3 separate regions of the Homo sapiens genome follow, and all the other regions are linked to region 3. The links come from fine-mapping of genetic effects on plasma protein levels. Region 3 holds a variant in brackets. A gene starts in each other region. All regions are shown on their reverse strands. Distances are from middle to middle.

The links. PIP is the posterior inclusion probability: the model's chance that the variant is causal. Protein levels are from antibody-based Olink assays in UK Biobank. Linkage for the fine-mapping came from a reference panel and not from the study's own genotypes, which makes the PIPs less certain.
Region 1: MRPL58 starts here. The variant in region 3 is fine-mapped to the plasma level of the MRPL58 protein (UK Biobank, PIP above 0.99).
Region 2: GADD45GIP1 starts here. The variant in region 3 is fine-mapped to the plasma level of the GADD45GIP1 protein (UK Biobank, PIP above 0.99).

The regions. Positions count from the first base shown.
Region 1 is chr17:75,008,225-75,016,410 of GRCh38, reverse strand. MRPL58 (mitochondrial ribosomal protein L58) reads right to left here and starts at 3,741. Exons shown (of 6, transcript NM_001545.3): 1 at 3,539-3,741. The coding sequence starts at 3,724. RefSeq lists enhancers at 2,731-3,413, 3,434-3,513, 3,564-3,873, 3,414-4,097, 3,964-4,113 and a silencer at 3,766-3,948.
Region 2 is chr19:12,953,643-12,961,822 of GRCh38, reverse strand. GADD45GIP1 (GADD45G interacting protein 1) reads left to right here and starts at 4,600. Exons shown (of 2, transcript NM_052850.4): 1 at 4,600-4,960; 2 at 7,297-8,180. The coding sequence starts at 4,611. The coding sequence ends at 7,615. RefSeq lists a silencer at 4,654-4,823 and enhancers at 4,252-5,124, 5,224-5,273, 8,117-8,180.
Region 3 is chr19:5,708,353-5,716,555 of GRCh38, reverse strand. It overlaps LONP1 (lon peptidase 1, mitochondrial), which reads left to right. Exons shown (of 18, transcript NM_004793.4): 2 at 2,285-2,373; 3 at 3,303-3,422; 4 at 4,554-4,785; 5 at 8,153-8,203. Among named protein-coding and RNA genes, the nearest start is that of LONP1, 7.7 kb to the left of the region's middle. The variant G/A (reference allele first, on the strand shown) is at 4,637.

The DNA of each region.
Region 1 (8,186 bases), not on the chromosome of region 3:
GGAGTCTCGCTCTGTAGCCCAGGCTGGAGTACAATAGTGCGATCTCAGCTCACTGCAACCTCCGCCTCTTGGGTTCAAGTGATTCTCCTGCCTCAGCCTCCTGAGTAGCTGGGATTACAGGCGCATGCCACCATGCCTAGCTATTGTTGTTTTTTTTTTTTGTATTTTTAGTAGAGATGGGGTTTCACCATGTTGGCCAGACTGGTTTCGAGCTCCTGACCTCAAGAGAGCTGCCCGCCTTGGCCTCCCAAAGTGCTAAGATTACAGGCGTGAGCCACCACGCCCAGCCTGTCTTCATTTCTTTTATCTTAGAATTATTTGGGAGTTGGCCGGGTGCAGTGGCTCACGCCGTAATCCCAGCACTTTGGGAGGCCGAGACGGGTGGATCACTTCAAGTCAGGAGTTGGAGACCAGCCTGGACAACATGGTGAAACCTCCCCTCTACTAAAAATACAAAATTAGCTAGGCATGGTGGCACACACCTGTAATCCTAGCTACTGGGGGAGGCTGAGGCAGGATTGCTTGAACCCAGGAGATGGAGGTTGCAGTGAGCTGAGATCAGGACACTGCACTCCTGCCTGGGACACTGCACTCCAGCCTGGGTGACAGCTAACGAGACTTTGTCTCAGAAAAAAAGAAAAAAGAAAAAGAAAAAGAATTATTTGGGGATGAAACCCTTATCCTACTCCACCTGTCTGCAGCACTGAAGATCATGGGCCACACCCTCCTTCCTGAAGCATGTTCCTTCTGTTCCTTCTGAAATTTTCCTCTTACCTTCCTAGGACTCTTTCTCACTCTCCTTTGCTAGCTCTTAGCAACTTTTAAACACTGACATGCCCTTGAAATACTTCTCTCTCTCTCCTCTTTCTTTCTCTAGAATACTTCATCTATGCTGATGAAAATAGCCAGTTTTTCGTTTTTGTTTTGAGATGGAGTCTTAAGGTTGTCGCCCAGGTTGGAGTGCAGTGGTGCAATCTCGGCTCACTGCAACCTCTGCCTCCTGGGTTCAAGCGATTCTCCTGCCTCAGCCTCCTGAGTAGCTGGGACTACAGGCGTGTGCCACCACGCCCGACTAATTTTTGTATTTTTAGTAGAGACGGGGTTTTGCCATGTTGGCCAGGCTGGTCTCGAACTCCTGACCTCAAGTGATCTACCCTTGGCCTCTCAAAGTGCTGGGATTATAGGCATGAGCCACTGCGCCTGGCCAGAAAATAGCCTGTTTTTGACACCCAACTTTCTGGCTCAAACTCAAACCTTTCTTCTCAACTCCACACCCATATACCCAACTGCTACTCAACGTCTCTTCTCAGATGTCTAATGGACCCAAACCTTAAGCCGCCTCAGAGGACTTCCCTTACTAATAATCTGAGGTAGCCTCAGCACTTTGTTGCAGCACCCTGGCCTATTCATTACACTACTTCTCACTACCTGATATTTTCCCTATTTGTTTACTGTCTGCTCCTTCCATTAGAATTAAGCTCCATGAAGGAGAGAGATCCTGTATTTTGTTTATCATGGCTGTATATGCTAGACTCAAGTAGTAGTAGACACAGTAGATATACAATAAACATTTTATTGAATGAATGAACAAATGAATGCTATTGCCACTCTCTCATCTCAGTTAATAGCAACTCAATCCTTTCACTGCTCAAGGCCCCAGACTTGGCTGGGCATGGTGGCTCACGCCTGTAATCCCAGCACTTTGGGAGGCTGAGGCGAGCAGATCATTTGAGGTCAGGAGTTTGAGACTAGCCTGGCCAACATGGTGAAAACCCTGTCTCTACTAAAAATGCAAAAATATGAGTCGGGCATGGTGGTGCATGCCTGTAATCCCAGCTACTCGGGAGGCTGAGGCACAAGAATCACTTGAACCCAGGAGGCGGAGGTTGCAGTGGGCTGAGATCACGCCACTGCACTCCAGCCTGGATGACAGAGTAAGACCCTGTCTCAAAAAAAAAAAAAAAAAAAAGCCTGGCGCGGTGGCTCACGCCCGTGATCAAGACCAACCTGGCTAATACGGTGAAACCCCCTCTCTACTAAAAAAAAAAAAAAAAAAAATTAGCCGGTTGTAGTGGTGGGCGCCTGTAGTCCCAGCTACTCAGGAGACTGAGGCAGGAGAATGGCGTGAACCCGGGAGGCGGAGCTTGCAGTGAACAGAGATTGCATCACTGCACTCCAGCCTGGGCGACAGAGTGAGACTCCGTCTCAAAAAAAAAAAAAAAAAAAAAAAAGGCCCCAGACTTCAATTCCTCTTTTATTCTCACTTCTCACATCCAATCAATTAGCAAATCTTGCAGGCTTTCTTTCCAAAATACGTCTAGGATCTGACCAATTCTCATGACTCCTACTGCTTCCACCCTGCTTATCATCTCTTGCCCTACATTGCAATCTCCTTACTTGTCTCCCTGATCTTGGCATCCTCTATCTGTTCTCTGTAAGGCTCTCTGAGTGATCCTTGTAAAACTAAGATAATTCCATTCTGCTTCAAGCTCTCCAATAGGTCTCCCTTGCGTTCAGAGGAAAGGCTGGAGGCCATTAAGTCCTAGTAACAGGCCTTTCCCCAGCCATCCCTCTCTTTGGCTTTGTCTCCTGACCCCTGCTGAGCCACACCTGGGGATTGCTACTGCCTTCAGGTTATTGCACTTTCTCTTCCCTCTGCCTAGGATGCTCATCCGCCCCCTATTCTCATGACTTGCTGTCTGGCTTCTTCCAGGTCGTTATTCAAATGCCACCTCATTGACAGCGTTCCTAGACAATCCTACTTAAAATTGCAACCCTACTTCCTACCTCTGGCACTACTTCTTCCTTCTTGGCTTTATTTTCTGCAAAGTACTACCTCACACATTCTATATTAGTCATTTACTTACTGCTTGTCTCCCTCCACTAGAACATAAGCTCCACAAGCTTTAGAATTTCAATTTTGTTTGCTACTCCATCCCCTAGCCTAGCACAGCTTTTGTTGAGTGAGTGAGTGAATTAATGAACAAATGAATGGATATTCTTTTCCAGTCCTGTAAGTGGAAGCTCAATGGGTTTGGGTGGGTCTTATCTCTCTTGCTCCGGGGCTTGATTCAATGCCTGCACACAGCTGGCTAAATAAATGCATCCTGAAGGAACGACAGAGAAGCTGTTTTATTCGCGCGTCCTGGGGTTACTAGAGACAATGGACACTGTAACGTCCCAAAGGGTAGCAAACAACTTGGCAGCCTCTTGCCTTTATTGTCCGCCTTGGAGGGCCAGAATGCCCGTATTTCCCCTTGGGACTGGAATTTGGTCTTGAGGGCCAAGGACACGAACGTAGAAAAGCTGGCAGCCTTGAAAGAAGCATACCCAGCCGGCCTTCCGGGCTCCTGCACATCTCGCGCTACAGCGAGCACCCCACTCCCGGCCAGGTTAGCGCAGACAGCCAGCCCCCTCCCGCGGCGACCATCACGTAGCCCCCCGACGTAGCTCCACATCCGGCCAATGGGCCTGGGGTTCCTAACGTCACCCAGCAGCCTGACAAAACGCCCCTTCCGTCCAGTCCTTCCCGGCTCACCGGGACCCTCCAGGCGGTGTCCGAGCCCTGAGATTCGGGGTAGAGCTTGTCCAGGCTGTAGATGCTCTTGAACTCAGTGCCGTCTTTCTGCTTGTGCAGCGCCCGGCGTGGGCACCGTGCGGGCGGTGGGAGCAGCCAGACTCCGGCTCGGCTCAGGCCCCAGCGCAGGCACCTGGTGGCCGCCATGCTCAGGTCTTGCGACTGCTTCCGGCGGGCGCTTCCTCCCCGCGGTCCGCAAACTCGAGCCGCCCTCGAGCTTTGGTTCCGCGCAGTTTCTAGGTCCCGCCGAGGGGAGGCGGCAAACTGGGGTCCCGCCGATGCTTTCTGGCCGGCCGCCTCCGGGAGGCCTGGTTGGCTGGGGAAGACGGTGGCCAGAGAGCGAGCTGCTACCGGAAGAGTGCCCCGATCTTGTGGCCCCCAGAAACACCACTTCTCTCCTTTCAGAGTCCGTGCCCTCCGCCTGGACCGCCCACTGCCCAATTCAAACAGCAGCGAGGCCTGCCCGGCCAGCCTGGGGCATCTCCCGCCCCGCGCTTCCCAGCCCCTTTACTCTGCTCTAATTTATCTTTTTTCTCTTCCTTTACAAAAATCACTCAGTCCTAATTGTCTAATTGCTGTCTCCTAGCCGGAATGTGAGCTCCAGGAGGGCACCGGCTCACTGGTATATCCCCAGCACCCAGAACATGGCACATCGTGGGCACCCCATGAGTACTGATAAAATGAATTCTGTAGGAATGTACTTTTGAAAGTTGGGTTCTGGTAGAGCTGAGTTTTAGGAACGCCAGGCTCTTTTTACAAGGCAGCCTATGAGCAAATTCCCCGCTGAGCACGTGTGTGTACTGGCTTATACCCAGCAGCTCTGCAGGACAAATACCAGATGGGAGGAGAAGGCAGGCCACCGAAAGAAATGTTTGCAAAACCTGGAACATCGTCCCCCGCCCTTCAGCTTTATGGAGCAAGATGATGCTTTCTTCCAGCCAGGAGAGAGGGGGTCCCTCGGGAGGTAGGGAGAGAATTCAGAGAACTGCCAGCTAACTAGAACCCTTTCATAGCGCTGGTAAGGGATGAACTACAGACAAGTTCCAATTCTGAAAAAGGTTCACAGTAGAGCAAGCAGTGTTTGAAAACAGCTAAACCTTAGTTAAGTTACTGTGTTGAGAGGCTATGTGGTAAATGGAAACAAAGCTAAATAAATGTTCATAATTATTAGTAATGCTAGCGATTGTTTCTTAATGAAGAGTTCTATTTTTAGGAACAAGCATAATTATCTAGAAAAATGTGCCCCCGGGGATGCTGGCTGATTGAAACAGGAGATTGTCATCACACCAAGCTTTTACCATCTCCGCATTATGGCTACAGCAAATCTTTAAGAAGGAATAAACCACTTTCTAAGCACTGGCTTTATAAGCTCAGACTAGAAAGGGGTGACAATTGACATATCTCGGGCTCTATCTCGGGTTGGGAGGAGAGTCTCCTGGGTCCCGCGCTGTTTGACTTAGTCCCAAGACCTCAAAGGGAATAGACGCATCTCTATGGCAACTGGAATAAGCTGCTCAGAGGAGCAAAACCAGGCATTCACTCAGGTCGGGGGCTAAGGGGTTATGAGTAATAAAGTCAGAACCTTTCCATGACATCATTGCTCTGAGGCTGGGCTCCAGCTCTGCACCTGACCCAAGGCAATAGGAAAAGGAAGCTGCAGGTTTCCATGGCCCCAAATAAACACAGCCTGCTTGGGCCATCTGGTGGCCTGGATTCTGGGAGAGGAGGTGGGTAGAGGAGAGAATGAGGCAAGCCGCCCTGGGGTGGAGAGAGGAGCAGCTGGCAAGCTCCTCTTACCTGCTGCTGCCGTGAACTATCCAGAATGGGGGCCCTGGGAGAAAGGCCAGAAAGGGGCCACCTGTTCTCCCAAAAAGATGGGCACTAAAGGCTGAGGCCAGTCTTCCCTTTCTCCTCCTTGGTTTTCTATAGGCCGAGATGGTGCTTCAGGGAGGGGACATTCATGGGAGAAGAGAGGAAAGAGGTCATTTCTGGCAGCTGAGGAGCTTGCAGACACAAGCCTTTCTATAGGGCCTATGAGTTGGGGTACTATTCCTATGTAGGGGGTCCTACATAGGACCTACATAGGACCCCTTTCTTCTTCTCTGTACCGCCCTGGGTCAGAAGACCTCCTTTTTTTTTTTTTTTTTGAGATTGACTCTCGCTCTGTTGCCGAGGCTGGAGTGCAATGGCACGATTTCAGCTCACTGCAACCTCTGCCTCCTGGGTTCAAGTAATTCTCCTGCTTCAGCCTCCCGAGTAGCTGGGACTACAGGCGTGCACCACCATGCCCGACTAATTTTTGTATTTTTAGTAGAGACGGGGTTTCACCATGCTGGCCCGGCTGGTCTCGAACTCCTGATCTCGTGATCCGCCTGGCTCACTCGGCCTCCCAAAGTGCTGGGATTACAGGCATGAGCCACCATGCCCCACCAGATGGCCTCTTAAAACTCATCATTGACCAGGTGTGGTGGCTCTCACCTGTAATCTCAGCACTCTGGGAGGCCAGGGTGGGTGGATCACCTGAGGTCAGGGGTTCAAGATCAGCCTGGCTAACATGGCAAAACCTCATCTCTACTAAAAAAATGCAAAAATTAGCTGGGCATGGTGGCATGCACCTGTAATCCCAGCTACTCGGGAGATTGAGGCTGGAGAATCGCTTGAACCCAGGAGGTGGAGGTTGCAGTGAGCTGAGATTGTGCCACTGCACTCCAGCCTGGGTGACAGAGCAGGACTCCGTCAAAAAACAAAACAAAACAAAACAAAACAAAACTCATCATTATGTGTAGATAGGGAATGTGCAATGAGGCATGGTGGATTGGTCAGGACTAAGTTTAAATATTTATTTTTTTATTAAAAAAATAGAAAAATGTGTCCATGTCCTAACTGCTGGTAACTGTGACTATGACTTCATTTTAAAATTGTATTATTATTATTTTTTGAGACAAGGTCTCGCTCTGTCACTCAGGCTGGAGTGCTGGTATGATCACGGCTCACTGCAACCTCGGCCTCCCCGGCTCAAGCTATCCTCCCACCTCAGCCTCCCAAGTAGCTGGGATTACTGGCATGTGCTGGATAATTTGTGTATTTTTGTAGAGACAAGGTTTCTTGTCTCTACCAGCCCAGGCTGGTCTTGAACTCCTGGGCTCAAGCAATCCACTTACCTTGGCCTCCCAAAGTGCTGGGATAATAAGCATGAGCCACTATGCCCAGCCGAGTTTGAATATTTCTATGTGACCTTGAATTACTAACCTGACCTCTAAGTTTTTGTATCCTCATCAGTAAAATGGAGATTTTATAGTCATCTCATAAAGTTCCTGAGGATAGTAAACACATATAAAACACTTAACACAGTGCTTGGCATGAAGTCAGCAGGCAACAAAAATTAGCTGCTGCTAAGGGATGCTATGTGCATGCAGGTTCCTTAAGGGACACTTTTCTTTCAGACACCTGATTACTGTTGTCTTTTTTCCTCTGTAGCCCTGGAGTGGGAAATCCAGTCTGACGAGCTGTATTCCAACCCTCTTTCCTTCTTCCCTGAGGGGATGGGCAGCACAGAGCTGCCCACCTCTCCCTGGAAAGTACTTCCTTCATTGCTACCCCTTATCTGCCTGGTCCCCTAAAACTGAGGCCACCCCCCAGCTCTCAGCTCAGGATCCCCAGGGAGGGCAGAGGCAGGTCTGTTTGGCTAGCTGCCCTCCCTAAGTGGGGTGGTGGGTTTGGCCCTGGGAGAGGAGAAGGGTGCCAGTTCAGGGGAGGAGAGAATGGGGCAGGGGCCGGGGGGCGGGGAGGAGCTCCCTGCAGCAGGGAGTATCTGTCCACAGAGCAAGGACAAAGTGGTGATCAGGAGGGAAGAAGGGAAAGAAAGGAGGGAAGAAGGGAAAGAAATGCATCCAGAGGGCGGTTTAGAAAGCTGAGGGAGGCCAGGCATGGTGGCTTACTCCTGTAATCCCGGCACTTTGGGAGGCCAATGTGGGAGGATCATTTGAGCCCAGGAGTTCAAGACCAGCCTGGACAATATAGCAAGACCTGGTCCCTACAAAAAATTAAAAAAAAAAAAATTAGCCAGCATAGTCCCAGCTACTGGAGAGGCTGAAGAGAGAGGATCACTTTAGCCCAGGAGCTGGAGGCCGAGTAAGCTACAGTTGTGCCACTGCACTCCAACCTGGGCAACAGAGCAAGACCCTGTCTAAAAAAAAAAAAAAAAAGGCTGAGGGAGAAAAGGGTGGCTGGATTCACGCCACGGCTTCCTTCGTCTCTCAGGTGTGACTGCTCCATGTGGTCACCACCACCTGCTCCCCATCCTGGTGACGACAGGTGACAACAGGATGGGAAAACCCAACAGCCACTTGCACGCTGCCCTTGTAAAAGCCCCATGCTGTTCAGTTGATGTACTAAGCACAGCAGTTTGGGGCCCAGCCTTGGGCTTGCCACACCACACTTTTTTTTTTTTTTTTTTGAGACTGAGTCTCACTCTGTCGCCAGGCTGGAGTGCAGTGGTGTGGTCTAGGCTCACTGTAACCTCAGCCTCCTGAGTTCAAGCAACTCTTGTACCTCAGCCTCCGGAGTAGCTGGGATTACAGGTACACACCATCATGCCTGGCTAATTTTT
Region 2 (8,180 bases), 7.2 Mb before region 3:
TCGGGAGGCTGAGGCAGAAGAATGGCGTGAACCCGGGCGGCGGAGCTTGTAGTGAGCCGAGATGGCGCCCCTGCACTCTAGCTTGGGCGACAGAGCGAAACCCTGTCTCAAAAAAAAAAAAAAAAAAAAAATTAGCCAGGTGAGCACCTGTAGTTTCAGCTACTTGAGAGGCTGAGGTGGGAGTATCACTTGAGTCCAGGAGGTCGATTCTGCAGCCAGTTATAATAATTGTGCCACTGCACTTCAGCCTGGACAACAGAGCAAGACTCTGTCTCAAAATAAAAAATAAGCCAGTTACAAAAGGACAAGTACCGTATGATTCGACTTATATGAGGTACCTAGAGTAGTCAAATTCATAGAAACAAGGTAGAATAGTGACTGCCAGGCCGGGCGCGGTGGCTCACGCCTGTAATCCCAGCACTTTGGGAGGCCGAGACGGGCAGATCGCGAGGTCAGGGGATCGAGACCATCCTGGCTAACACGGTGAAACCCTGTCTCTACCAAAAATACAAACAAATTAGCCGGGTGTGGTGGCGGGTGCCTGGAGTCCCAGCTACTCGGGAGGCTGAGGCAGGAGAATGGCGTGAACCCGGGAGGCGGAGCTTGCAGTGAGCCGAGATCGCGCCACTGCACTCCAGCCTGGGCAACGGAGCGAGACTCCATCCGTCTCAAAAAAAAAAAAAAAAAAGGAATAGTGACTGCCAGGGACTGGGCGAAAGGGAAACTGGGGAGTGAGTGTATAGAGTTACAGGTTTGCAAGATGAAAAAATTCTGAGGTCAGGCATGGTAGCTCATACCTGTAATTCCAACATTTTGGGAGGCCAAGGTGGGAGGATAACTTGGGTCCCAGAATTCAGGACCACCCTGGGCAACATATTGAGACTCTATCTCTACAAATAATACAAAAATTAGCCAGGCTTGATGGTGAGTGCCTGAAGTTCCAGCTACTTAGGAGCCCGAGGTGGGAGGACCACTTGAGACCAGGAGATTGAGGCTGCAGTGATATGCCAGTGTACTCCAGCCTGGGCAACAGTGAGACCCTGTCAAGAAAGGAGGGGAGGGGAGGGGAGGTGAGCCAGGAGTTCAAGACCAACCTGGGTAACATAGAGAAACCCCGTCTCTACAAAAAAATTTAAAATGTAGGTGGGAGTAGCGGTTCATGCCTATAGTCTTGCTACTGAAGAGACTGAGGCGGGAGGATTGCTTGAGCCCAGGAATTCAAGGCTGCAGTGAGCTATGACCGAGCCAGGGCACTCTAGCCTGGGCAACAGAGCAATACCCTGTCTCAAAAAAATAAAATTTAAAAAGCAATCATATAGGTCCTCTTCCTTTGTTGCACATTATGCTTATAAGCATCATCCATCTTCTGTGAGAAGATGTAATATTTGCTCTTTCATTCCTGTGTAGTATTCCATTGGCTGAAACAGCATAATTTAGGTGTCCATTCTACTTCAGATGGACATTGGGTGTGAGCTATTTCCAGCTTGGTAATGACATATATATGTGGTGTTGCTATGAACATTCATGTCTTGAGAAAACTGCAGTTATTTTTTGCGGGGGTAGAGAAGGTGTGCGTGTGTGATTAAAAACAAAAACAACAGGCCAGGCGCGGTGGCTCATGCCTGTAATCCCAGCACTTTGGGAGGCCGAGGCGGGTGGATCACAAGGTCAGGCGATCGAGACCATCCTGGCTAACACGGTGAAACCCCCTCTCTACTAAAAATGCAAAAAAATTAGCCGGGCGTGGTGGCGGGCGCCTGTAGTCCCAGCTACTCGGGAGGCTGAGGCAGGAGAATGGCGTGAACCCCGGAGGCGGAGCTTGCAGTGAGCGGAGATCGCACCACTGCACTCCAGCCTGGGCAACAGAGCTAAACTCCATCTCAAAAACAAACAAACAAAAAAAAAAAAACAAAAAAAACGTGGCCAGTCATGGTGGCTCACACCTGTAATCCTAGCACTTTGGGAGGCTGAAGTGGGCAGATCACTTAAGGTCAGGAGTTTGAGACCAGCCTTACCAACGTGGTGAAACCCCGTCTCTAGTAAAATATGAAAATCAGCCAGGCTTGGTGGCTTGCGCCTGTGGTCCCAGCTACTTAGGAGGCAGAGGCTCGAAAATCCCTTGAATCTGGGAGGCAGAGGTTGCAGTGAGCCAAGATTGCATCACTGTACTCTCACCTGGGAGACAGAGCGAGACTCTGACTCAAAACAAAACAAAACACAAATTCGTTTTATTTATTTTGTATATTTTACAATATAAAATATATTATACATTATAAGCAATAACTCCCACTCCTCCACCCCCAACCCCTGGAACTCCTAATCTACTTTCTGTCTCTATGAATTTGACTACTCTAGTTACCTCATATAAGTGGAATCATACAATATTTGTCCTTTTGTGACTGGCTTCTTTCACTTAGCCTAATGTCCTCAAGGTTCATCCATGTCACAGCATGTGACAGAATTATTTATTTATTTATTTATTTATTTTGAGACAGAGTCTCGATCTGTTGCCCAGGCTGGAGAGCAGTGGTGTAATCTCAGCTCACTGCAACCTCCGCCTCCCGGGTTCAAGCGATTCTCCTGCCTTAGCTTCTCGAGTAGTTGGGATTACAGGTGTGCACCACCGCACCCAGCCAATTTTTGTATTTTTAGTAAAGACGGGGTTTCACCATGTTGGCCAGGCTGGTCTCGAACTCCTGACCTCAGTGATACCTGCCTCAGCCTCCCAAAGTGCTGGGATTACAGGTGTGAACCACCGCGTTCAGCCACATTTACATTAAAAAAATAATAAATGCTAGTGGGCTTTTTGTCTGTTTGTTTGTTCAGACAGAGTCTCACTCTGTCACCCTGGGTAGAGTGCAATGGCACGATCTCAGCTCATTGCAACCTCCACCTCCCAGGTTCAAGCGATTCTCCTGCCTCAGCCTCCTGAGTAGTTGGGATTACAGGCGCCCACCACCACGCCCAGGTAATTTTTGTATTTTTAGTAGAGACAAGGTTTTGCCATGTTGGTCAGGCTGGTCTCCAACTCCTGACCTCAAGTGATCCGCCCGCTTCAGCCTCCCAAAGTACTGGGATTACAGGCGTGAGCCACCAAGCCCAGCCTAATAAATGCTAGTTTAAATGTATAAAAGTAAAGTTAAAAATATAATTTTTACGCAGCCATAAAAAATGATGAGTTCGTGTCCTTTGTAGGGACATGGATGAAACTGGAAACCATCATTCTCAGCAAACTATCGCAAGGACAAAAAACCAAACACCGCATGTTCTCACTCATAGGTGGGAAGTGAACAATGAGACCACATGGACACAGGAAAGGGAACATCACACACCGGGGACTGTTGTGGGGTGGGGGGAGGGGGGAGGGATAGCATTAGGAGATATACCTAATGCTAAATGACGAGTTAATGGGTGCAGCACACCAACATGGCACATGTATACATATGTAACAAACCTGCACGTTGTGCACAAGTACCCTAAAACTTAAAGTATAATAATAATAAAATAAAATAAAATAAACTTTTTGAAGGCAAAAAAAAAAAAAAAAGAATAGCATGGGGGAAACCACCCCCGTGATCCAACCACCTCCCTTCCCCGACATGTGGGGATTACAGGTCCCTCCCTGGACACATGGGGATTATAATTCAGGATGAGATTTGGTTGGGGACACAGAGCCAAACCATATCAGTGGCCCTGCCACAGCCTCTTATTTTTGATTTTTCAATGTGTTCATTCAACATGATTTCAGATTATTCATTGGAGGGCTACTGTGTGCACAGAAGACACATGGATGAATAAAACAGTATGGTTTCTGATATGCAAAAAACAAAAATACAATTTTTACCCAAAGAACACTGAACACTTAGAAAAAAATACACAAATATATATTTGTAGCCAGGTGAGCGTATATATATATGTATATGTGTGTGTGTGTGTATGCATGTATGTATTTATTTTTATTTATTAATTTTTTAGACGGAGTTTCGCTCTTGTTACCCAGGCTGGAATGCAATGGCACGATCTCGGCCCACCCCAACCTCCGCCTCCCGGGTTCAAGCGATTCTCCTGCCTCAGCCTCCCGCGGAGCTGGGACTACAGGCATGCGCCACCATGCCCGGCTAATTTTGTATTTTTAGTAGAGACGGGGTTTCTCCTCTCCTCCCGGAAGGCGGAGGTTACAGTGACCCGAGATCACGCCGTTACCCTCCAGCCTGGGCGACAGAGCGAGACTCTGTCTCGAAAAAAAAAAAAAAAAAAGACTGGTCTCGAACTCGCGACCTCAGGTGATCCGCCCGCCTCGGCCTCCCAAAGTGCTGAGATTACAGGCGTGAGCCACCGCGCCCGACAAAAATATGTATTTTTAAGTGTCAGTGTGCAGAAAGGAGAAGAAAAAAAGTGAAAATTAAAAATGACTTTAATCAGTAACTGCTTAACTAAAATTTAAAGTTATACTTGGAAACGTATAAAACCCATACTATCCCCTTCGCCGCCCTCCCCCGAACTGAGGCAGCAGGGACACCCCTCGCCCTGCCCTGGCCCACACCGGGCCTCGCGCTCAGGCACCGGGCATGGACAGCCCGGCGGGCCTGTGAGGACCCCGCACAGCCAAGATGGCGGCGTCCGTGCGACAGGCACGCAGCCTACTAGGTGTGGCGGCGACCCTGGCCCCGGGTTCCCGTGGCTACCGGGCGCGGCCGCCCCCGCGCCGCAGGCCGGGACCCCGGTGGCCAGACCCCGAGGACCTCCTGACCCCGCGGTGGCAGCTGGGACCGCGCTACGCGGCTAAGCAGTTCGCGCGTTACGGCGCCGCCTCCGGGGTGGTCCCCGGTTCGTTATGGCCGTCGCCGGAGCAGCTGCGGGAGCTGGAGGCCGAAGAACGCGAATGGTACCCGAGCCTGGCGACCATGCAGGAGTCGCTGCGGGTGAAGCAGCTGGCCGAAGAGCAGAAGCGTCGGGAGAGGTGCGTGCGTGCAGGCAGACGCGGGGCTGCCCTCTGTGCCCCGTGGGCGAACTGGGCCCCAAACCGTGCCTACCCCTTCGGGGTCACGTCGCAGCATCTGCATGTTGTAGATTTATGTATACGCTCACCTGGCCGCAAAACAAACTCAGAATAACGTCCATTTAGTCATTCATCAGCAAGTTTTGTTTGTTTGTTTGTTTGTTTTTTGGAGACAAGAGTCTCGCTCTGTTGCCCAGGCTGGAGTGCAGTCGCAAGATCTTGGCTCACTGCAACCTCCGCCTCCCCGGTTCAAGCGATTCTCCCGCCTTAGCCTCCGGTGTAGCTGGGATTACAGGCGTGCACCACCACGCCCGGCAAATTTTTGTAGTTTTAGTAGAGACGGGGTTCCACCATGTTGGCCAGGCTGGTCTCAAACTCCTTACTTCAAGTGATCCACCTGCCTCAGCCTCCCAAAGTGCCGGGATTACAGGTGTGAGCCATCACGTCCGGCCATCACCACCAAGTCTTTACTGAGCGCATACCGTGTGCAAGACCCTGTCCCAGGCCGGGGGCGGTGGCTCGTGCCTGTAATCCCAGTTATTTGGGAGGCCGAGGCAGGCCCCAAAAGGGCCCTTAATATCAGATGGCGACAGCTGACAGGCAAGATAATACCAATGGTGACAGCCGACTAGTAGGAAGGTAAAAGAGTGAAGAGTGTGTGCCTGAGGGCAGCTTTGGTTTGGGAAGCCTCAGGCCTCTCTGAGGAGGTGATGTTTAAGCAAAGACCTGAATAACCAGACTTAGCTATGGGGCGATCTCTTGGGTAGAAAGTTTCTGGTAAAGGGAACAGCTGGGGCAAATGCCCTGAGATACGATATGCCTTAAAGAACAGCCAGGAAGCCAGTGTGGCTGGGGAAAAGGTGAGGGCAGGAAGGTGATGGGTCCTGGAACCAAGAGGGCAGAGGTCAGATACAGAGGCAGGTCTGAAGGACCAGGGGCATCTTTTTGTTGTTGTTGTTGTTGTTGTTTTGAGGCAGAGTTTTGCTCTTGTTGCCCAGGCTGGAGTGCAATCTCAGCTCACTGCAACCTCTGCCTCCCAGGATCAAGAGATTCTCCTGCTTCAGCCTCCCGAGTAGCTGGGATTACAAGCGCCCACCACCACACCCGGCTCATTTTTTGTATTTTTAGTAGAGATGGGGTTTCGCCATATTGGCCAGGCTGGTCTCAAACTCCTGACCTCAGGTGATCCATCTGCCTCGGCCTCCCAAAGTGCTAGGATTACAGGCGTGAGCCACCGCGTCGGGCCAGACCAGGGGCATCTCTTATAGATAATGCCACATCCTGGAGCGTGAAGGGGGTAGGTCAAGTGTGTTCCTGGTGTTTAATCTTCTTGTTTTCCTAATAGCCTTAAGAGGAAGAAGGGATTGCCCTAATTTTAGAGATGAGGAAACTGAGGCTTGGTGAAGTGAAGTCATGCGTCTGATCACCCAGGCAGGGAATCATGGAGCAGGGACTCCTGTTTCTGCCCCTCCTCAGCCAGATGACCATTATAGGGCTTAATTCTTTTACTTTTCTAATCCTTAAATGAGGCTGTCATAAAAAAGAACGAGATCATGTCCTTTGCAGGGACACGACGGGAGCTGGAGGCTATCATCCCTAGCAAACTAACACAGGAACAGAAAACCAAATACAACGTGTTCTCACTTGTAAGTGGGAGCTAAATGATGAGAACACATGGACACACAGGGGAGCAACACACACTAGGGCTTTTTGGAGGGTGGAGGGAGAGGATCAGGAAAAATGACCTCTAGGTACTAGGTTTAATACCTGAGTGATGAAATAAATCTGTACAAAAAAACCCCATGACACAAGTTTACCTACGTAACAAACCTGCACTTGTACCCCTGAACTTAAAAGAAAAAAATGGGGCTGTGACTGGTAGCTACAAACTCAAGGATTGGTGGGAAATGTCTTTCTTGCTTTCACTCCTGTGCCTAGAATTGGGCCTGGCCTCTGTACAGGAAGTGCTCAGCAATGTCTATGAAATAAAGGTGTGAAATTATCCATGGGAGTGGCACTTGGCTTGCTCAGTAGGCAGCTCAGTGAAATGCTGATTTGGCTTTGGCACCTGGGGTTTACTGGGGCTTGACATGCCCTTGTGATCAAATTCATGCACAGGTAACTTTCTCATCATCTCTTCCTGTTTCTTCACTTGTCAAGGGCTTTTCCTGACAGTTAATCTACTGGGGGAGTTGAGGAGGCAGGCTCGTGGGCAAAGGCCTATGGGTGAGATATGGGTGGGTGGGCTCTGCCCTGGCTGAGTGCCAGTGTCACAGCCCACTCTCCCTCCCCTGCAGGGAGCAGCACATCGCAGAGTGCATGGCCAAGATGCCACAGATGATTGTGAACTGGCAGCAGCAGCAGCGGGAGAACTGGGAGAAGGCCCAGGCTGACAAGGAGAGGAGGGCCCGACTGCAGGCTGAGGCCCAGGAGCTCCTGGGCTACCAGGTGGACCCAAGGAGTGCCCGCTTCCAGGAGCTGCTCCAGGACCTAGAGAAGAAGGAGCGCAAGCGCCTCAAGGAGGAAAAACAGAAACGGAAGAAGGAGGCGCGAGCTGCTGCATTGGCTGCAGCTGTGGCTCAAGACCCAGCAGCCTCTGGGGCACCCAGCTCCTGAGGCTTTGTCCCTTCCCAATAAAGCCTGCTACCTGGCAGTACCCCTGAAGAGATCTGCGTCCTCTCAAGGTGTGCCTCTCTGGGTCCCCTGGTTCCTCCCCCAATACTTAAGAGCTGGGGAATCCCCCACTTGGCTGTACTCAAAAGGGGACAGGGACTCTAGGCCCTGCTGACTAACTGGGGCTTCAGTGGGAGGAAAAGGGGGGTGTACAATGGGCAAATAATGGAGAAGCAGATGGCAGAAGAGAAGAAGGCTTCTGTTTACCAACATTCATCTCCAGTAATTAGCCAATTACAAGGCTGGTGGGGGGGGAAGTATAGCCAAAACAGACTGTGGTGATGATGGTGGGGGCCGGGGAGAAGCAGTCCTTGTAACGTTGGGCTGGGGTCCACTGCCTGGAAATGACACACTGGGGGAGGAGACACCGGAAGCCTCAATCTGCAGGGACTCACAGACTCCTCTCCCCCTTCCAGGCACCCGTCACCATGCCTGCCTGTGCCCAGCCAGCCCCCCAAGACCCAGACAGGTGGGCGCGGGGAGCCCCAGCAGGCACAGACCATAGGGC
Region 3 (8,203 bases):
TTATGTATCTATAGTGTCAGGAATTTCTGGACCACAAGTTAAGAGCCTGTGTTAGGGAGTGAGTCAAAACACTGGCTCTCAAAGGATGGTTGTGGACCAGCAGCATCGGCATCATGTGATGCTCTTTTGTTTGAAATGCAGATTTTTGGACCCACCCTAGAACTGAATCAAAAACTCCAAGGGTGGGGCCCAGCAGTGAGCTGCTTAAAGTCCTTCAGGTCATCCTGGTGCCTGCAAAAGTTTGAGGGCCATTACTATATATATATATATATATATATATATATATATATATATATGTATATTTTAACTTTATTATATAATAAAGAATTAAAAACTTCAAAAAGAAAATAGAGATGGGGTCTCACTGTGTTACCCAGGCTGGTCTCAAACTCCTGGGCTCAAGCGATCCTCCCACCTCAGCCCCGCAAAGTGCTGGGATTACAGGCATGAGCTACCATTACCAGGCTAGCCAGGCCATTACCTTTAATCAGGGTCTGTCCAGTGAATTAACAAAGGCTTGAAAGAAATCAGGTGAGCTCCTTGCGCCTTCAAATGCTTCTTAGAAGACATCATTAGCCCTGAACCTGCCGTTGAGAATGTGCTGTGATCCTGGGGGTCTTGATCATTAATGAACAGCATATGATGTGATAAGGAAGTAACTGTCAATGAAAATTGGAGGAACCAGGCATGGTGGCTCATGGCGAAACTCCGTCTCTACTAATAATACAAAAATTAGCGAGTGCAGTGGCGTGTGCTTGTAACCCCAGCTATGTGGTAGGATGAGTTGGAAGAATCGCTTGAACCTGGGAGGTGGAGGTTGCAGTGAGCCGAGATTGCACCAGTGCACTCCAGCCTGGGTGGCAGAGTGAAACTTTCTTTTTTTTTTTTTTTTTTTTTTTTTTTTTTTTTTTTATGAGACAGAGTCTCACTCTGTCGCCCAGGCTGGAGTGCAGTGGCGTGATCTTGGCTCACTGCATGCTCCGCCTCCCGGGTTCACGCCATTCTCCTGCCTCAGCCTCCCGAGTAGCTGGGACTACAGGTGCCCGCCACCACGCCCGGCTAATTTTTGTATTTTTAGTAGAGACGGGGTTTCACCGTGTTAGCCAGGATGGTCTCGATCTCCTGACCTTGTGATCTGCCCGCCTCGGCCTCCCAAAGTGCTGGGATTACAGGCGTGAGCCACCGCGCCCAGCCTGAAACTTTATTAAAAAAAAAAAAAAAAGGAAGTTATCAATCTCTGGAGTGGGTCACATTTAAATTACTTATGTTTATTCTGACATTAATAAAAGCAGAATGGTTTTGATTTTCAAACCAAGACAGTTTGCCCTGGACATCCCCTTTGAAGCTGGATGTTAAATCAATTTCTGGGTTCTGACCATTCGTCTACTTTGAATTTCCTTTGGGAGTGGGGAAACCGCTAAGAAGAATCCAGCTGGTCAGTTCTGCTCACTGTATTCACCACCACAGCCTCCTGGCCTCCAGCACTTTTTTTTTTTTTTTTTTTTTTTTGTTTAGGCGTTCCCAAACCATGTTGATTAGTATCCAGGATGCGGATCAGCATGTCCCCAGAGAATAATCTACACAGCGTTAGAGCGGCTCTGCTGTCAAAAAATGTCAGCTACAAAAGCTACCCTGGGAGGCCGGGCGTGGTAGTTTACGCCTATAATCCCAGCACTTTGGGAGGCTGAGGTGGGTGGATCACGAGGTCAGGAGTTAAAGACCATCCTGGCCAAGATGGTGAAACCCCATCTCTACTAAAAATACAAAACAATCAGCCGGACCTGGTGGCGGGCGCCTGTAATCCCAGCTACTCAGGAGGCTGAGGCAGAGAATTGCTTGATCCCGGGAGGCGGAGGTTGCAGTGAGCTGAGATCATGCCACTGCACTCCAGCCTGGGTGACAGAGCGAGACTCCGTCTCAGAAAAAAAAAAAAAAAAGAAAAGCTACCCTGTGCTGCGTTTGGTGGCTCACGCCTATAATCCCGGCATTTTGGGAGGCTGAGGTGGGTGGATCACCTGAGGTCAGGAGTTCGAGACCAACCTGGCCAATATGGTGAAACCCCATCTCTACTAAAAATAAAAAAATTAGCCAGGTGTGGTGGTGCATGCCTGTAATCCCAGCTACTCAGGAGGCTGAGGCAGGAGAATCCCTTGAACTCAGTGGGGGTGGAGGTTGCAGTGAGCTGAGATCACGCCATTACATTCCAGCCAGGGCAACAGAATGAGACTCTGTCTCAAAAAAAAAATCTACTCTGCATTTCACTTTGGGGTCATTGTCATGCTAGGTTAAAAATAAGAAGTTGGTTGAGCTGCTGAGAAGGAAAGTTCGTCTCGCCCAGCCTTATGTCGGCGTCTTTCTAAAGAGAGATGACAGGTAAGTGTGATTTTTCCTTCATTCCCTTGTTGACGGTGCCCTAGAGTCCAGCTCACCACAAGTCCTACTCTGTACTTTGCACCTTTGACCCCTGACCCCGAGGAAACCAGGGAAGACCTCCAGAATAAAGGCCAGAAGCCACGCAGGCTACCTTTTCAGCCTGGGCTGAGAACTCAGCTTGTAGTACTAAACTTCATGCATTGTTAAGATACGGGGGAAATTAACTTCAGGGACTCTTAGTGATGAAATGCTCCATGAGGCTACCTGAAAGTCGAGCTAGCTGCTCGGAGATGTGGCTCCATGTAGAAATGAGTTCCATGGGCCGGGCGTGGGGTCGCACACCTGTAATCCCAGCACTTTGGGAGGCTGAGGCATGTGGATCACCTGAGGTCAGGAGTTCCAAAGCAGTCTGGCTGACATGATGAAACCTCGTCTTTACTAAAAATACAAAACATTAGCCAGGCGTGGTGGCAGGTACCTGTAATCCCAGCTACTCAGGAGGCTGAGGAAGGAGAATCGGTTGAACCTAGTAAGTGGAGGTTGCAGTGAGCTGAGATTACACCATTGCTCTCCAGCCTGGGCAACAAGAGCGAAACTCCATCTCAAGAAAAAAAGAGTTCCATGCATGCATTCGAAGCAGGCTCTGTGATAGCATAGAAGAGACTCATCAAAGTCCCACCTGGACCATGTCTTTGTGGCTGACTTAGCGAGGAGCCACCCACCCGGTCCTGTGACCACTGGGGCAGCCCTGGCCTGGCAGAAGCTCCCCTAGGCTCTGGAGCTCCTGCGGGAGCCAAGGAGGCCGCTCTTGGTTTTCAGTAGCATTTGGTAGGGGCGTTTCTTTTCTCTCCCTCCTCCATCTCAGCCAGAGACATCCTGCCTAGCATGAAAGCCATGTTCCAACATTCCTCTGTGCTCTTCTCCCACAGCAATGAGTCGGATGTGGTCGAGAGCCTGGATGAAATCTACCACACGGGGACGTTTGCCCAGATCCATGAGATGCAGGACCTTGGGGACAAGCTGCGCATGATCGTCATGGGACACAGAAGGTGGGTGGCTGGCGGGGGACAGTGGGAGGTGGGGGCAGAGTACCACGCGGGAGACCAGCCAGGATGCCTTATGCCCCAGCATCAGCCTCTGCCCTGTCCGTCAGCCCAGCGGCTTTCTCACTAGCACTGAGGCCAGAGCTGGGGGTGAGAGTGAGACATGTCACCTCTGGACCCCTCCTGTCTCAGAAAGGGGTGAGCTGCAGGGCCAGGCATGGTGACTCCTGCCTGGAATTCCAGCACTTTGGGATGTCAAGGCAATTGGATCGCTTGAGCCCGGAGTTTGAGTCCAGCCTGGGCAACGTAGCGAGATCCCATCTCTGCAAAAAATGTAGAAAAATTAGCTGGATGTGGTGGCTCATGCCTGTGGTCACAGCTACGCAAGAGGCTGAGGTGGGAGGATCGCTTAAGCCCAGGAGTTTGAGACCAGCCTGGGCAACACAGCAAGACCCTGTTTCTATAAAAAATAATAAAAAGTTAGATGTGACGGCGTGTTCCTGTAGTCCCAGCTACTTGGGAGGCTGAGGCAGGAGGATTGCTTGAGCCCAGGAGGTAAAGGCTGCAGTGAGCTATGATCACACCACTGCACTCCAGCCTGGGCAACAGAGCGAGACCCTGAGTTCAGGTGGTGCCAGGTGCTCTGAGGGGAGACGCAGACAGCGTGAGAGGTGGAGGTGGGTAGCTTTTGTGAAGTGCTTGGGGACAGTCTTTGCGATGGTGTCCTTGAAATCGAGACCTGAACAACAGGAAGGAGCTGCTATGAGCTGAGTCCAGGGCACAGAGTCTTGGAGACCAGCCTGTGCCCGGCCAGGCTGACACCGTTTTCGACAGGAGGCCCTGGGGCTTGTCACTGCAGCTTATCCACGATACTTAGGATGGGGACAGTGATGCATTGGCGTGGGATGCAGGGAATGCCTGAATCTGGCTGGAGTCTAAGGGGTGGAGGGGACACTGGTTGGGAGGCCCCGAGAAAGCGGCTCACGTCTCCAGCTTGAGGACCCTGTAGCCACCCTGTGGCTCCAGAGGTCTGGGCTCAGCGGGACCCTTGGACCACCTGTGCCACCAGGGAGGCCTCAGCCGGGTCCAGCTCCCAGCCTCAGCGGCTGATTCACACCTGCCTTGCTCCCGTGTCAGAGTCCATATCAGCAGACAGCTGGAGGTGGAGCCCGAGGAGCCGGAGGCGGAGAACAAGCACAAGCCCCGCAGGAAGTCAAAGC[G/A]GGGCAAGAAGGAGGCGGAGGACGAGCTGAGCGCCAGGCACCCGGCGGAGCTGGCGATGGAGCCCACCCCTGAGCTCCCGGCTGAGGTGCTCATGGTGGAGGTAGAGAACGTTGTCCACGAGGACTTCCAGGTCACGGAGGAGGTGAAAGTGAGTCCGTGCGTCACGCAGGGCGGCCACAGCTGCCTCCCCCACGGGCTCCCTTGAGCCGTTCCTGCGGCCTCTCCGAAGAGTCATCTCCCACCCTGAGCCCCTTAGGAAGGGTCTGGCCTGTCTGGAACTCAATTCTAATGGAACATAGAGGGTGCTTTTCCTCCCAGAGGTCTTCGGAAGACTCTGGGATGGGAGAGGCACAGGAAATTCGCTGGAGCCTGTAGCTGCTCAGGAAGGAGACAGGGTTGGAACCCAGGTCCAGCCCCAGCCCGTGTCCCCTGTGCCAAAGCCTCCAGCGGTTACCAAGACACCTTCCAGCCCTGGCTTCTTCCCACCAAGCCTGGGAGGTTGGTACCAGTGGTTGCAGGACAGGAAACAGCCTGTTGGCCACCCTGATCCCCCAACCTAGGCCGTCCTGCCTGCCTGGTGGCACAAGGAGTCAGCTTCCGAGGTGGGCAGGCTCTTGGCGGTGCCACCTGCCCTCCCGCTGTAGGGACAGTCAGCGAAGCTAACCAAAGGCCTGAAGCGTGTCAGCTCCTTACCTGTGTGCCTGGTGTCATCAGCCTCTTCCCCAGGCTGCTGCAGGGCCTAGGGGGAAGTGCTGTGAGCAACTGGTGATGTCTGCTGTGGGCGCTGGCAGGGGTGGAAAGTCCTGTCCACAGGCCCACCTGGGTTCTTGAGGTCAGCACTTCTATCCTGCCCCACTACCCCTGCGAGGTTTTTTTTTTTCTTTCTTTTTTTGAGACAGAGTCTGGCTCTGTCAACCCAGGCTGGAGTGCAATGGAACGATCTCAGCTCACTGCAATTTCCACCTCCCAGGTTCAAGTGATTCTCATGCCTCAGCCTCCCAAGTAACTGGGATTGCAGGCACGTGCCACCACACACGGCTAATTTTTGTATTTTTAGTAGAGACGAGGTTTTACCATGTTGGCCGGGCTAGTCTCAAACTCCTGACCTCGGGTGATCCGCCCACCTCAGCCTCCCAAAATGCTGGGATTATAGTCGTGAGCCACTGTGCCCGGCCACCTGTGAGTATTGAGCACTTGAAGTAGAGCTGCTGTGGCCAAGGAACAGAATGGAACATTTTATTGGCTGGGTACAGTGTCTCATGCCTGTCATCCCAACACTTTTGGAGGCCAAGGAAGGAGGATCACTTGAGCCCTGGAGTTCAAAACCAGCCTGGGCAATATTGAGACCCCTGTCTCCACAAAAAAAATAAAATCCCTGGGCATGGTCGCACACACCAGTGGTCTAACCTGTGGGAGGATCGCTTGAGCCCAGGAGATTGAGGCTGCAGTGAGCTGTGATCGCATCACTGCACTCCAGCCTGGGCAACAGAGTGAGACCCTGTATCTAAAAATTAAAATAAAAAAATTCAGGCCGGGCACGGTGGGCTCACGCCTGTAATCCCAGCACTTTGGGAGGCCGAGGTGGGCGGATCACCTGAGGTCAGGAGTTTGAGACCAGCCTGACCAACATGGAGAAACCCCGTGTCTACTAAAAATACAAAAAAAAATTAGCCAGGTGTGGTGGCTTATGCCTGTAATCCCAGCTACTCGGGATTACTGAGGCGGGAGAATTGCTTGAACCTGGGAGGCAGAGGTTGCGGTGAGCCGAGATTGCACTATTGCATTCCAGCCTGGGCAACAAGAGCAAAACTCTGTCTCAAAAAAAAAAAAAAAAAATTCAGACAGCCACCAGCGGCTACACTGTCCTGGGCAGCTCAGCATTGGGGCATTCCCTGTGAGAATCTTGCAACAGGGGGAAGACAGCGACCAAACTTACAAATGTGATTAGAACTGGCAAGACCCCTTAGGGGCAGCGAACTTGTTCTTTTTTTTTTTTTTTTTTTTTTTTTTTGAGATGGAGCCTCTGTCGCCCAGGCTGGAGTGCAGTGGCGTGATCTCGGCTCACCGCAAGCTCCACCTCCCGGGTTCACACCATTCTCCTGCCTCAGCCTCCCCAGTAGCTGGGACTACAGGTGCCCGCCACCACACCCGGCTAATTTTTTGTGTATTTTTTAGTAGAGACGGGGTTTCACCGTGTTAGCCAGGATGGTCTGGATCTCCTGACCTCGTGATCCGCCCGCCTTAGCATCCCAAAGTGCTGGGGTTACAGGCGTGAGCCACTGTGCCCAGCTGAACTTATTCTTAAAGCAAGTGCCCCGGACCTCCAGTGGGCCTGTTCTGGTGCCTTCTACCAGGGTCAGCTCAGACAGTTCAGCGTCAAAGCCAAAGACTAGAGACCAGGTGATTACGGTTTCTTTGGAGACAGAGTCTCACCCTGTCACTCAGACTGGAGTGCACTGGCGCAATCTTGGCTCATGGCAACCTCCGCCTCCTGGGTTCAAGTGATTCTCCTGCCTCGGCCTCCTTAGTAGCTGGGATTACAGTCACCCACCAAAGTACCTGGCTAATTTTTTTTTTTTTTTTGGTATTTTTAGTGGAGATGGGGTTTCACCGTGTTGGCCAGGCTGGTCTTGAGCTCCTGGCCTCAAGTGACCCACCTAACTCTGCCTCCCAAAGTGTTGGTGTTACAGGTGTGAGCCACCGCGCCCGGCCAAGACCAGGTGATTAAAATTTGGTTGTAGGCAGGTGCAGTTGCTTATGCCCGTGGTCCCAGCTACTCCGGAAAATGAGCGGGGAGGATCGCTTGAGCCCAAGAATTCAAGGCTGCAGTGAGTCATGATTGCAGCCCTGCACGCCAGCCTGGGTGACAGAGCAAGACTTGGTCTTTTTTTTTTTTTTTTTTTTTTGAGACAGAGTCTCGCTCTTTCGCCCAGGTTGGAGTGCAGTGGCGCGATCTCGGCTCACTGCAAGCTCCATCTCCTGGGTTCACGCCATTCTCCTGCCTCAGCCTCCCGAGTAGCTGGGACTACAGGCGCCCGCCATCACGCCCGCCTAATTTTTGTATTTTTTGGTAGAGACGGGGTTTCACTGTGTTAGCCAGGAGGGTCTCGATCTCCTGACCTCATGATCCACCCGCCTCGGCCTCCCAAAGTGCTTGGATTACAGGCGTGAGCCACCACGCCCGGCCAAGACTTGGTCTCTTAAAAAATGGAGGAAAGAAAACACAGTCTCTTTTTTTCCCCTGAGATAGCTTATCCTAAGGACAAGGCTCTGAGGGGTAAGGAGACAGGGTTTGGTTTTAGTTTTGACTCTCTTGGTCCTGTGTCCCTGGGACTGGTGAGTCCACCAGGGACTGCACTCCTCCATCTCCCAGGCCGTCCGTGGCCAGGGCCAGTTGGCGGAGGGGAGGGAGTTGATGGAGCTGGTGGGTGGGGCTCCCAGGGCCATGCTCCCACCCAGCCCACCCCCTGCTGGAGCACTGCTGGGCCCCAGCGACCCTGCCCCATACTTGGCAGGCCCTGACTGCAGAGATCGTGAAGACCATCCGGGACATCATTGCCTTGAAC